Linked DNA regions of Homo sapiens. The protein of the gene in region 1 interacts with the protein of each later gene in a pairwise test. Each region holds a gene or a part of one and is shown in the gene's direction. Other genes may lie near its edges. The genes, in order: SORBS1 and SYNJ1.

Region 1 (3,817 bases):
GCGCATGCCTGTAGTCCCAGCTACTCAGGAGGCTTAGGCAGGAGAGTCACTTGAACCCGGAAGGTAGAGGTTGCAGTGAGCCGAGATCACGCCATTGCACTCCAGCCTGGGTAACAAGAGCGAAACTCCATCTCAAAAAAAAAAAAAACAAACAAAAAAAGAGATGCCTTTCTTCTTGTGTTCAGCTTTCTACTTCTGTTGATATTGCTGGTTCCCTTGTCTGTTTCCTCCCCCATATTGTGAGTTCTGGGAATAGAGTGAGTCTGTGTTTCTTCTCTTTTTAAATTAAATTTTAATTTGTATAAAACTTTCGCGTGTGTGTGTGTGTGTGTGTGTGTGTACACAGAGAGTTTCTTTTTTGTTTGTTTTGAGACAGAGTCTCCCTCTGTTGCTTAGGCTGGAGTGCAGTGGCATGATCTCAGCTCACTGCAACCTCTACCTCCCGGGTTCAAGCGATTCTCCTGCCTCAGCCTCCCTAGTATCTGGGACTACAGGAGACCACCACCCCCCCAGCTAATTTTTTTATTATTAGTAGAGACAGGGTTTCACAGTGTTGGCCAGGCTGGTCTCGAACTCCTGACCTCAAGTGATCTGCCTGTCTTGGCCTCCCTAAGTGCTGGGATTACAGGCCTGAGCCACTGTGCACCCCCACCCCGCACAGAGTTTTGAAAGACAAATAGGCTGGGTGTGGTGGCTCACGCCTGTAATCCCAGCACTTTGGGAGGCTGAGGTGGGCGGATCACCTGAGGTCAGGAGTTTGAGACCAGCCTGGCCAACATGGCAAAATCCCATCTCTACTAAAAAAATACAAAAATTAGCCAGTCACGGTGGCGGGCGCCTGTAATCCCAGTTAATCTGGAGGCTGAGGCAGGAGAATCACTTGAACCAGGGAGGCGGAAGTTGCAGCGAGCTGAGATTGTGCCACTGCACTCCAGCCTGGGCAACAGAGCCAGACTCCCTCTCAAAAAAAAAAAAAAAAAAAAGTCAATACTACTAGAAAAATATAAAGGCTGCCTGGGCGCAGTGGCTCATTCCTGTAATCGTAGCAGTTTGGGAGGCTGAGGCCGGCGGATCACTTAAGGCCAGGAGTTCAAGATCAGCCTGGCCAACATAGTAAAACCTTATCTCTGCAAAAAATACAAAGAATTAGCCAGGCATGGCAGTTAGGATATAGACATCCTTGAGGGGCTGCTGTTACTCTGTTTACAACAGTTACTTCTAATGCACTGAGCTGTTTCTCCTGATATTACTATCATATTTATTGTTACCTGCTTACAATGCTGTTTTCTGATTGTCCATTTTAGATGTTATTTTTATTTTTCCTTATTTTTCTTTTTGTAGAGACAGGGTCTTGCTATGTTGAGACCCTGCTTGAGGCCAGGGTGGACTTTAACTCCTGGCCTGAAGCACTCCTCCTACCTGGGCCTCCTAAAGTTCTGGGATTACAGGTGTGAGTCACCATGCCCAGCTTAGAGGTTACTTTTAGATGTTATGTCTTGATGTCTTACTATGGATTAGATCCTCTCCTCTGCCCCCCAATACTTCCCTTTCTCCCTATCCTCTCATTATAGATATATCACAGTTTTTGATTACATTGATATTTGGTGCTTACATTATTTTGGCTGTGTAAATAGTGTTCATGACAGAGCCATATAGTATACTATAATATTTTCTTTCTTGTACATTTTTTGAGTTAATAATTATCTTACATTTTCTATTTACTTAGTTTCTATGTACTTATTGCTAATTCTCAAAGTATTTGACAGCATCTTAAGACATTTGTTTTATAACATGTGTTCCTATTTATTTATTTATTTATTGAGATAGGGCCTTGCTCTGTCCACCAGGCTAGAGTGCAGAGGTGCGATTGTAGCTCATTGCAGCCTTGACCTCCTGGGCTCAAGTGATCCTCCTGCCTCAGCCTCCTGAGTAGCTAGGACTACAGGCACCACCATGTCCAGCTAATTTTTAAAGTTTTTTGGTAGAGATGGGGTTTCACTACATTGCCTAGGCTGGTCTCTAACTCCTGCCCTCAAACAATCCTCCCTCCTCAACTTCTCAAAGTGCTAGGATTACAGGCATGAGCCACCGTGCCTGCGCTTGTTCCTTTTTATTTTATTACTGTTTTTTTTTTTTTACGCCCGCTTGGAGACTTCCCTCCTATAGGCCTCCATTCTGTCTCCTTTGTTCTTGCCCATTGACCTCTAGGCCTGTGGCATGACTCATCCTGGGAATTCCCTCACCTTATCCTGGGTGGGATCCTGTTTCCTTTGTTGATTTATTCTTCCACAAGTTTCTGAGAGAGGGTCTGTGGAAGTTGATCACTTTAAGCTTACAGGTCTGAAAATGTTCATATTCTACATTCATATTCGATTGGTGATTTGATTCATCTAGAATTTGAAGTCGAAAGCCATTTCCCTTAGAATTTTGAAGCCATCATTCCACTGTCATCTAGGTTCTAATATTGGTATCAAAATTCGGATACCATTCTGATTCTTGATCATTTATGGATAACCTGATTTCTCACTGAAAGTTTTTGGGATCTTCTCTCTTTTCCTGTATTTGAAATCTCCTTGCTTTAAAAATGATTGGCCTGGGTCTTTGGTGTGGGCCTTTTTTTTTTTTTTTTTTGAGATGGAGTCTCACTCTGTTGCCCAGGCTGGAGTGCAGTGGTGCAATCTCGGCTCACTGCAACCTCCGCCTCCCGGGTTCAAGCGATTCTCGTGCCTTAGCCTCCCAAGTATCTGGGATTACAGGCGCATGCCACCACGCCCAGCTAATTTTTGCATTGTTAGTAGAGATGGGGGTTTCACCACGTTGGCCAGGCTGGTCTCAAATTCCAGACCTCAGGTGATCCACCCGCCACGGGCTCCCAAAATGCTGGGATTACGGGTGTGAGCCACTGCGTCCAGCCGGTGTGTGCCTTTTTGATCTGAAGATTGACGTCTTTCAGTTTGGGGAAATTTTCTTAATTAGATATATTTTAATAATTTCATTTTCTCCATTTTCTGTGTTTTGTCTTTGGCATGCCTATTAGCTGAATGTTGGACTTCCTGGAGCAAGTTTATAATTTTAAAACATTTTATTTCCTTTTTTCATTTTATTATATTTTTGTCTTTCAGAGAGCTATCTTCAGCTTTATCTTCAACTCTTTTCCATTTTTAACTGTGCTTTCATGTGTTTACGTGGAACATATTTGCATGTTTTACTTTGTAAGAGCTCCCTAGTTCTCTGAATACTTGCTTTTCTTTTTTAGATGACATTCTATTCTTGTTTCATGGGTACAGTAAATTCCTTTATATTAAGGGTTTTGTTTGTTTGTTTTTGTTTTTTTTATGGTTTTCTGCTGTTCCCTGCTGTCCCTTGGAAGATGTTGTTTCTTCCAAGTCCCTTTTTCCATTTGTTTTGGTTACTGTATCTTCCATTGCAGCTATCCTTCCATGCATGCTGATCCTTGACTGTCTATGTATATTTTAAGAATGGACACCGAAATGCTGATTGGGCATCAGTGCCACAAGGAAGGGAGTCGTTAACTTCATTGTAGAGTGACCCAGCAGAGAGCCCCCTTTTTCTCTACTGGAGCAGCCTAGATATCAGCGCCGGTAGATCTTTTTCCTGGGGCTTTCCTGGATAGGGCTTTCTTGGAGAGGATTTTACCTGGGTGTGGGGTAGGGTGGGGTGGGGTGGTAAACAGCCTGGCCTTCCTGCATTCTGGGAGCCTCCATGGGGAAAGGGGCTAGGTATTAGTCTGTTTGATATGCAGACTTTCACTCAATCCCTGGGTCTTTTGAAAGTTGCCCCCACCTGCCATCCCTCT
Region 2 (3,817 bases), on another chromosome or scaffold:
AATAGTAGAGCAGTGTCACTGAGAAAATTAGGCTGGGTGGGGCCCATTTGTTCCATCCTCAGATACCCAAGTGACAACCATGTAATGAGACTCCAGCTTGGGGGCAGGCTGTTGAAGTAGGGGTTCCCATCTTAAGACTTCCCTCTTCTCTGTGAAGTGTTGAAGTGATCTGCAGGAGTGGGACAGCTCACAGTTTCAGGAGGGTTAAGGAGTTTTGCAGTAAAGCTCCTGAAGAGCAAAGGGTGAGGGGAAGAGCAAACCAGCAAATCATGGAATTGCCAGGCACTTTAGGCCAGAAGAGACTGAAAAGCATAATTTCAAATGTGACTGCAGTTGTCAGGACTGGGTGGTTTTCTTTAGCAGAGGCAGTCAGCAATCCAAGTGTTATCACAGAAAGATTAAACAGGGGAATCAGTGCAGGGATGGGGTTATGTCAAGCACGTGCAATGGAAGAAGAGTGAAGTAGGGTAATGTTTGAGATGAAGAACCATAGAATCTGAAGGTAGGTACAGAAGAAAGCAGAATCAGATGGAGGTAAAAGTTAGAGGGATCAAACCCTGGCTTCTGAAGAAATCAAAAGAGAAGGAGTAGCCAAGGGAGAGAACTGAAAAGCTGGGAGGCCAAAGTCAGAGTGAAGCTTTTGAGTTTATTATTTCAGAAGAGTGCAGTTCTGAGGGGTGAGGGTTAGGAGTGAAGGCGAATGTCCATAAGGATAGGACCAAGGCATTTTGCTATTGAACGAGTTGTCCACATGGACTTTGATGCCACGCAGAAAGATGGTGCGGGACCTGACTTACAGTCTTGCTCTCTGCTTAGTCCTCAGTGAGTGGGTTCAGGAAATGGAAGAATGGACGTTGGAGATGACTGTAGCAAGTGGGGGTAGAGGATGTTACATAAATTCCTGATGGCATAGCCTCAGAGCAGTAGGACTTTTTGTTCAGGGTTGGAAGACTAATGTTCTGGAATGGCAGTTAGGTTGCAAGGGTTACCTTGTGCCCACTTTCCTACCCAGAAGTAAGTGGAGATGAGGAGACCCTGGGGGAGAACCAGTGTTTACTTAATTAAAGCAAAGCGGGTCTTTGTGGGGTGAGGGTTGCAGGGAGGAGCCTTCTGGGGGAAGACTGTGTGGCTCCTGAGAGCTTGTTGACTCTGAGGCTGGACCTGGGTTAGGCAAGGGAGTGGGGCAGTTCCACAGAGCACAGTGGACAGGTTTGGAAGGAGAGCAGGAAACTTGAGTTGGCTTGCACTGGAGAAGCTGCTCTGGGGCATATTGAAAGCCCATTGGGTCACCCCAGCTCCAAGTGGTTGGTCACCTGACATCTTATTGCTCAGAGACAATAGATACCTTTACATCTTCTGAAACAAGCATTTCTACTAATTGTGGTTTTATACATGCCTTCATGCTTAATCCATGTGTGTTTGCAATGACATAATGTTCATATTTGTTTTGTGTATTTTAACTTTTTAAAACCTAAGGTGAAAAAAATCTCTGAGCAAGTTAAAATGGAGTTATCTCTGATCAAGCCTGCTTTTCCTTAGGTGATGTTGATGACTATAGTGCTGAAGTGGAGGAACTTCTTCCTCAGCATCTCCAGCCATCTTCAAGTTCCGGCCTTGGTACTTCCCCCAGCTCTTCACCCCGAACTAGTCCCTGCCAGTCACCTACAATATCAGAGGGTCCTGTACCTTCCCTTCCCATCAGACCAAGCCGAGCACCGTCAAGAACTCCTGGGCCTCCCAGTGCACAGAGTATGCATTTTATTTGAAAGTTTTGTATGGCTTCCTGTGGCCAATGTGCTTGATGTTGGAGAGTCATCGTTTAAGTTTCATACCTAGGTGATAAAGTGCACCCTGTTTTCTCCGGTACAGAATAGGAAAACTTGTAGATGATAAGCTCTCAATGGAAAGGAAACTTGCTATAACTGTCACTAGATGACAATTGTTCTTAATCTTTTTTCTATGTGGTTAGGTTTGTCTATGTCTTATAACTGATGATTTTCTATGGTATGAACCCGTTAACTATTTGAGCTTTTTCTTCTCTCTACTGGCCAGACTACAAAATGGCTTAACTCAAACAATACTTTGTGCATATCAATAGGGCCACTTAGTAAATTAGCTTTCAGCACCTGAGGCCTAGGTAAGAAGTCAGCACAGAGGTAGCATTATTGCTGCCATGGTACCAAAGGGCAGTTTAATAGTAGACTGCTTTTGTTATTCATACTGAAAATACATGCCCTTTCTTTACACCATTGTGCACATTTTATAGAACATTACACATATATATGAAGGACTGTTCCCTTCTGTCAACAGCTACTTAGAAGCTGATCTTCTTACCTCCTGTGCGCTTTTTAGGTTCTCCTATTGACGCGCAGCCAGCAACGCCGCTGCCGCAGAAAGACCCCGCCCAGCCCTTGGAGCCCAAGCGGCCGCCGCCGCCCCGCCCGGTCGCCCCTCCCACACGCCCGGCTCCCCCACAGAGACCTCCTCCGCCTTCAGGTGACAACCTTTTATTTCCATTTCTGCTAGATGTAAAATTCTTCACTCTATTTTAAAATGTTTTGCATGTTTTCCAATCTCTAGCTTCTGGATTTTACAGTTTTTTCTATCATTATTGCTATTTCTTAGCTTTTCTCTAAAGAACATGGTAGGCGCAACAGACAAGGTAGAGTGTTTGCAGAGTAGATTCCTCTAAGGTGTTTTCACAGCTGCCTTTAGCTGCCTTCTCACCAGCCAGCCAGAGAGGTTTATTTTGTTTTTGCTAATTTGATCTAGTTAGGCATGTAAACTGTTCTTAGGTAAAATTAGGTTTAATTTTTTTCAAAATCCTCATTTCTGGATGATTTATAAGCATAAAATAATTAAAATGTACTAATTTCTGTAAAAGTATAATAAAACTGGAGAGCATACGTATTAATGTACAATTGTATGTATTTGTTTAATGTTCTTTTAAATTAAATATAGTGCTGTTACTTCAATTATAAGCATATGCATTGAATAATAGTTTTTGTAGTACGTAGATAATATGTAATTCCTGCATGATACTTGATGTCATGGATACTATAGCAATCTTTGACATTTCACTTCTGTATTTAATGTCATTTCCTTTCTGCTGCCTATTTTCTTATGAACTATAAGGGGCTAGGAGTCCTGCACCCACTAGAAAGGAATTTGGAGGTAACCATTTACATTTGTTAGCATGTGTGAATCGTGGTTCATTAATGTTTTACACCTGAAAGACATTTTAGATTTGTTTGATAAAAGTCAAAATGAATGACATTCTAGTTTAAAACTAATCCACAAATAAAACTAATAAAGGCTTTCATTTCCCAGGTAGGCTGGGATTGTTCATCAGGCCTAATTTTTTTTTTAATAAATGTGGTCGATTCATTTACAAAGATTTAATACCCAAAAGTTATATTAATTTTAAAAGTCATTCAGGTACAGTAAATACAGAACATTTCCCAAGTATCTGATTAGTGATACATTTATTTTCTAGTGGAAAAGCTTTTGGATTAGCAAAGAACTGTATGATTTTCTTTTCCTTTCTTCATAAGGAAATTTTTATTCACAAAGGGTCACTTTTTGTTTGAAGTATAGTTTATTTGGTTTACATGAAAACTCACAGAGCTCAGTTGGAGTTATACATTTGACAAGTTTATTTAATCTAAATCTCAAGAAAAGATGAGATGAGTTTTCACAATTCCTCAGAAGAACTTTTACAAATCCAGTGTTACTAAGGCTCACTGTGCATGTGTAGCCTGGTCTGTTTCTATTGTAGCTTGCCTAGTGACATGGCTGAGCAATTCAGGTCTTACTA

What was found.
Region 2: the proteins of SORBS1 (region 1) and SYNJ1 interact in a two-hybrid assay, tested with the Homo sapiens proteins (one large-scale study listed by BioGRID and IntAct).

The regions. Positions count from the first base shown.
Region 1 is NC_000010.11:95,551,216-95,555,032, reverse strand, and holds part of SORBS1 (sorbin and SH3 domain-containing protein 1), read left to right. Parts: intron 1-3,817. UniProt on the Homo sapiens protein: Plays a role in tyrosine phosphorylation of CBL by linking CBL to the insulin receptor. Required for insulin-stimulated glucose transport. Involved in formation of actin stress fibers and focal adhesions.
Region 2 is NC_000021.9:32,644,325-32,648,141, reverse strand, and holds part of SYNJ1 (synaptojanin-1), read left to right. Parts: intron 1-1,539; coding exon 1,540-1,749; intron 1,750-2,352; coding exon 2,353-2,496; intron 2,497-3,135; coding exon 3,136-3,174; intron 3,175-3,817. UniProt on the Homo sapiens protein: Phosphatase that acts on various phosphoinositides, including phosphatidylinositol 4-phosphate, phosphatidylinositol (4,5)-bisphosphate and phosphatidylinositol (3,4,5)-trisphosphate. Has a role in clathrin-mediated endocytosis.